Linked DNA regions of Homo sapiens: region 2 is linked to region 1. Evidence: fine-mapped expression QTL. Tissue or cell type: whole blood. Region 1 holds a variant in brackets; the other region holds the start of a gene. All regions are shown on one strand. Distances are from middle to middle.

Evidence for each region. PIP is the estimated chance that this variant, and not a neighbour inherited with it, causes the effect.
Region 2: TRPC1 starts here. The variant in region 1 is fine-mapped to the expression of TRPC1 in whole blood (INTERVAL, PIP 0.97).

Annotation. Positions count from the first base shown.
Region 1 is chr3:142,663,824-142,666,588 of GRCh38, reverse strand. It overlaps PLS1 (plastin 1), which reads right to left. Exons shown (of 16, transcript NM_001145319.2): 2 at 2,282-2,387. The coding sequence starts at 2,351. Among named protein-coding and RNA genes, the nearest start is that of PLS1-AS1, 8.4 kb to the right of the region's middle. The variant G/TG (reference allele first, on the strand shown) is at 1,292.
Region 2 is chr3:142,722,825-142,725,589 of GRCh38, reverse strand. It overlaps TRPC1 (transient receptor potential cation channel subfamily C member 1), which reads right to left and starts at 1,556. Exons shown (of 13, transcript NM_001251845.2): 1 at 859-1,556. The coding sequence starts at 1,030. RefSeq lists an enhancer at 138-1,004 and a silencer at 1,263-1,312.

The DNA.
Region 1 (2,765 bases):
ACAATAGCCAAAAGGTGGAAGCAACCCAAATGGCCATCAGTGGATGAATGGATAAGCAAAATGTGGCATATACATACAATAAAATATTATTCAACCTTAAAAAGGGAGGAAATTCTGACACAGGCTACAACATGGATGAAGCTGTTGATGAGGACATTGTGCTAAGTGAAATAAGCCAGTCACAAGAAGACAAATATTATGTGATTCCACTTATGTGAGGTACCTAGGGTAGTCACACTCATATAGAAAGTAGGATGATGGTCACCTGGGGCTTGGGAGTTATTGTTTAATGGATATGGAGTTTCAGTTTGGGAAAGGGATGGTGGTGATGAATGTAGAACAATGTGAATGTACTAAATGCTAATGAACTATACACTTAAAAATGGTTAAAATGGTAAATTCTGTTATGTATATTTTACCACAATTTCAAAAAGAAACAATACAGAGAAATATTTCAACTTCCCCCTTCTCCCCAGTGGCCCCCAAATACTCCATCTAATAACATTGGATGGCCGTGTTCCTCTATCCTTGAGAAAAGTGTGCTACAAATTAGCAGAGAGGTTTCTGAGTTCACAGAGTAGCAGTTTACCTCCTAAATAAAGTCAGCAAGTACCTATTCTGCTAGTGTTACTGCTTTGCTCAAACAGAACAAATTATCTTGCTCTCAAAATTGTTCCATCAAGGACCTGCTTCTGGGTTGGGGTTTTGTACCTAGCAGAGCAGCTCCCTCACTACAATCTATTGAAAGTCAGCCCTCAACACAAGGTTTTGTTAAAAAAAAAAAAATTGTTCCATCAGTGAATTGTTTATTCAATATATCATTAAATAAATATTGCAAGATTATATTAATATGTTCATGAGTCAAAGATTAAAGTTGTTGTGCTAAACAAAGCAAATATATTACTAATTCATTTATTTTACCAAGACCTGGGTAGAACTTTTATTCAAGCTACAAAACTGCATCTATAAAATAACAGAAATATCAAACTACGAGATACATTTTTATTACTTCCTCTGTTTCAATGCTCAGAATGAGCAGAACATTTCAACAATTGCCCAGTTTTTGTTTTGAAAAGATTCTGGACACTACATACAATTCTCTATAAAATGTATGATTGTTTTCTGAAAATCATACCATATTCATACAATGCTCTAATGACAAATATGCCATTCCCAGGGAGAAATGGAAGAGCCCAGAGATTTGTAGAATTTAGTTTACTTTATTTCACAGTAATGATTTGTAAAACATGAGCTTCCTGAGTTTCACAGTTTTTTGGTTTTTTTTTTTTTT[G/TG]GAGTGCTTTTTTTTTTTAAACATATCGTTTTTCTTTGTATTGGTCAATAAAACTCATGTTGCATGATATTTTACTCACATTAATTTTAGTCGTTATTAGGTTTGTGAGAAATCTAAGCACAAGACCAGCGGTGATCATTTTCTCCTCCCTGATCTACCATATGACTGTTTTTCATGGAGGGCTCTATTACACTAGAGAATGAGCTTGATGAGTAAGGGGCAAACATAGTGGTGTCATTATCCCAATGTCTATTCACTGTGCTCACCTTTCACTGGGTTCACCTTTCACTTGCATGCATTTGCAAACTAAAGCAAAAAAAAAAAAAGGTATTTATATTCTCCTGTTTACCATGGGTTTCCTAAGAGCAAATTGCAGAAGAATTGAGATCCAACAGAGTATGAGGAAAATTTTTTGGAAGAAAAATACAAAACTGTCAAAATGATAATGTCATAAAGACAAAACACTAAATGGCTATAAAAAGTGAAAGAAGAAAAATAAGGCATACGGCCTTTAAAAACAATACTAAGACTTTCTAAATTATGCATGTGGGAGAAGGAAAATAAGACATATGGCATTTAAAAACAATACTGAGATTTTAAAAATATTCTGCATGAAGTCAGAAAGTGTTATTGTTAGTGCAAAGATGTGAAGGCCAGAGTTCAGTTTATACACAAGGAAGTATTTTTATATTTTTTTCTCTGTAATAAGGATACCGTGTAAAGTGTATTCAGTTACATTGTCATTCATTAACCTGGATTACTCTCTGCAAAGAAATGATCAAAGAATTCAAAGTCCAATTCACCTAGAAATTCAAGCTAGTCGTAGCTTATCTTTCAGAAAGAAAGAATCCAGTGAAACCTAGATAGAAAAAAAGGAATAAATCTGGAGGTAATTGGGTGGTGGTAGATGAAATAAAAGGTATTTTTCCATTCCTGAAGTCTGACATCAAGCAGACCAGTAATATCATATTTACTTTTTCTCAAGCATACCTATTTTATTAAATGCCTCTTGTAGTTCTTCAAGCTCCTCCCGAGAAATGGTAGTAGTACTGTTTTCCATCTTTGGACAGAAAAGACTATCTTCAGGTCTTTATATCTAGAAAAAGCAATATTATAAAAAAAGCATGAAGCCTTTGGAAACATTTAACTAAGCAATATAAGGTACAGAGGAAGTACATTCTCTAGGAGGAATTATCTATGAGATCTGGCTGACAAAGAACAAATATGAGTAGGTCCCCTGGTAACAATCTCTCAGCATAGGCCAGCCAAACTATAACTGAGACTCAGTAAGGGGAAGAAACACCTATTTTTCTCACCTTGTGCTTTTACACAGATATTTCTCAATAGCCTAATGAATTAATAATTTCTATTTGCATTTTACCCCACGATTTCAAGAAAATAAGCATTGCATTTCAAGTTTGAGAAAAGTATAGCATTTATAAATGTACAGCATAAGGTCAGAAAGTAAAATTTT
Region 2 (2,765 bases), 59 kb before region 1:
TTTTGTTATATACATCACTACAAAGGATGATTGCGTGACATGGCCTTAATATGGCCATAAAAATGATTAACTTCTAGACTAAAAAAAGGATAACGCGCTAAATATATTCCACATATTTTTGCCTTGTAATTCCTGTAATTATTTTTCACTATCTTTATCTCCCAAAGAAAGATCTGGGAGCAATAAATCTTTCTCTCCAATAAAAAGCACTAACAATCAAAGGCGTTCCGTAAATCCAGAGAAAGTTTTGGCAACTAAGGCAGAATTTCTTCCGTCCCGTCCTTACTTCATGTATCTCCACCTAGGATATTCCGTTATTAATGCCAGTCAACAGTCACTGGCTAAAGCACTGGTCAGGTGAAGCTAAATAATAGAGGGTCTGGTTTTGTTTTTAAGAAAAACAAAAACCAGGTGATGAGAACCCTCCATACGAGGCATCCTAAGGTAAGGTGACGGAATTTTCCGACTGGAGTGTCGGAAACTAGCCTCTCGACTCCCGGAAGGAATGAACTGCGAGCCAGAGAGAAGACCAGGTCATTCATGCGGTCAGTAGCAAGGGCGGCGCTAAAACGCTGGGGTCGGGGCTCCCAAGGCGCTACCTAAACCCCGGACCCCAAGGCCAGAGCCACCCCCGACGGTGCAGCGCTCCGAGGGCGCAGCCCCAGCTCCACTCTCCCGCCAGCTCCACACTCACAGGGCAGAGGCGGTGAGGAGAAGACCGCCTGAGGCAGCAGGCGAGGCGGGAAGACACTCGGCGCCTGAGACAGAGGGAATGCCCCGATATAAGTTGAGGCGGGGGAGAGGACTAAAGGTCTGGAGGACAGGGGCGTCCAGAGGAGAAAGGGGCCTAACTCTCACCCTTGTCGCACGCCAGCAAGAAAAGCTTCTCATTCAGCGTATTCTCCTCCTTCACCTCCCGCACATCCTTCAGCGCCATCACCTCGTTCGGCGAGGAAGAGGATGGAGAGGAAGGCAGGGAGGAGGAGGAGGCGCCCGAGAGGTCCGTGCTCGGGTACAGGGCCGCCATCATCGCGGCCCATGAAGGGGGCAGGCCAGGAGACGGGGGCGGGGCCCCCACCGGCCCCGACCCCGACCCCGACCCCAGCCACGCCCCAGGGCTGGAAAAAGGATGAGTCGTTCCCACTGCTGCCTCGGCTCGAGGCCCGTTGGCCCCGAAGGGCGTCGCCTCCCCTGAGAACCAGCACTCGCCCTCCACTGACAGCCCCAAGTTGGTGGCGGCGCATGCGCGGCCCCGGGGCCAGCGACCCCTCCCCAGCCGCCGGCGCCCCGGCCGAGCCGGTCCGCGCCCGTCCGGGGACGACAGTGTGGCGCGCGCCAGGGCGGCAGCCGAGCACGGGGCCGTGCCAGGAGTCGCAGGGGCCGCGCCTGGGGCGGCCTAGCCCAGGAAGAGGACGAGAGATCTGTGGGAGAGGAGCTCCAAGAGGCGCTTCTGCGCACGTTGGGCTCCAGGGCTGTGGGAACCGCTGGCCCAGCTGCGCTCCGAGGAGATGTTCGCGACTCTGTCCTCACGTCATCCTCTGCTCCTCTGTAGCGACGACACTAGGGAGGAGCCTGCGGCAAGGGCGGGCTTGGGTGGGCGGGGCCTGCGGCAAGCGGGGCGTGGGTGGGTGGGGCCTGCGGTGGGGACGCACTGGGCTCCTGGAGCCCGCTGCAGCTTCCTTCGCTCTGGTGAGGTGAACCGCAGTCTGAGGAAGACTTCGCTCAATCGTCCCTTTCCACACCCAGGGTACTGGTTTAAGGTAATTAAGCAAATATGGAGCAGTATGTTAATTGAGTCTCTGACGACTTAATGTTTAGTCGAAATCCTTTGTGGAATTGTCCAGCTATTTCATATTCTGGTGCACTATGCTTTAAAGCACAATGGAGAGCCAGACTCGTGGGTTTGTATGTTGTACTCATTTTAGGCTGGAAATGAACTCTCATTTATAAAGGATATATAGATATATAATTATATTATGTTTAAATAATTTATACAAATATATAAATTTTTATTTCCATATTATTTCCATAGGTTTTTGAGGAACAGGTGGTGTTTGGTTACATGAGTAAGTTCTTTAGTGATGATTTGTGAGATTTTGATGTACCCATCATCGAGCAGTATACACTGAACCTAATTTTGTAGTCTTTTATCCCTCTCCCCCTTCCCAACCTTTCCCCGAGTCCCGAAAGTCCATTGTGTCATTCCTATGCCTTTGCATCCTCAAAGCTTAGCTCTCACTTGTGAGTGAGAACATACGATGTTTGGTTTTCCATTCCTGAGTTACTTCATTTAGAATAAGAATAATAGTCTCCAGTCCCATCCAGGTTTCTGCGAATGCCATTTATTCATTCCTTTTTATGGCTGAGTAGTATTCCATCATTATATATATATCACATATATATATACCACATATATATATATATATATATATATCACAGTTTCTTTATCCACTCATTGATTCATGGGCATTTGGGTTGGCTCCACATTTTTGCAATTGCGAATTGTGCTGCTATAAATATGCATGGGCAAGTATCTTTTTCGTGTAATGACTTCTTTTCCTCTGGGTAGATACCCAGTAGTGGGATTACTGGATCAAATGGTAGTTCTACTTTTAGTTCTCTAAGGAATCTCCACACTGTTTTCCATAGTGGTGTACTAGTTTACAGTCCCACCAGTAATGTAGAAGTGTTCCCTTTTCACCGCATCCACACCAACAGCTATTATTTTTTGATTTTTTTGATTATGGCCATTCTTGCGGAAGTAG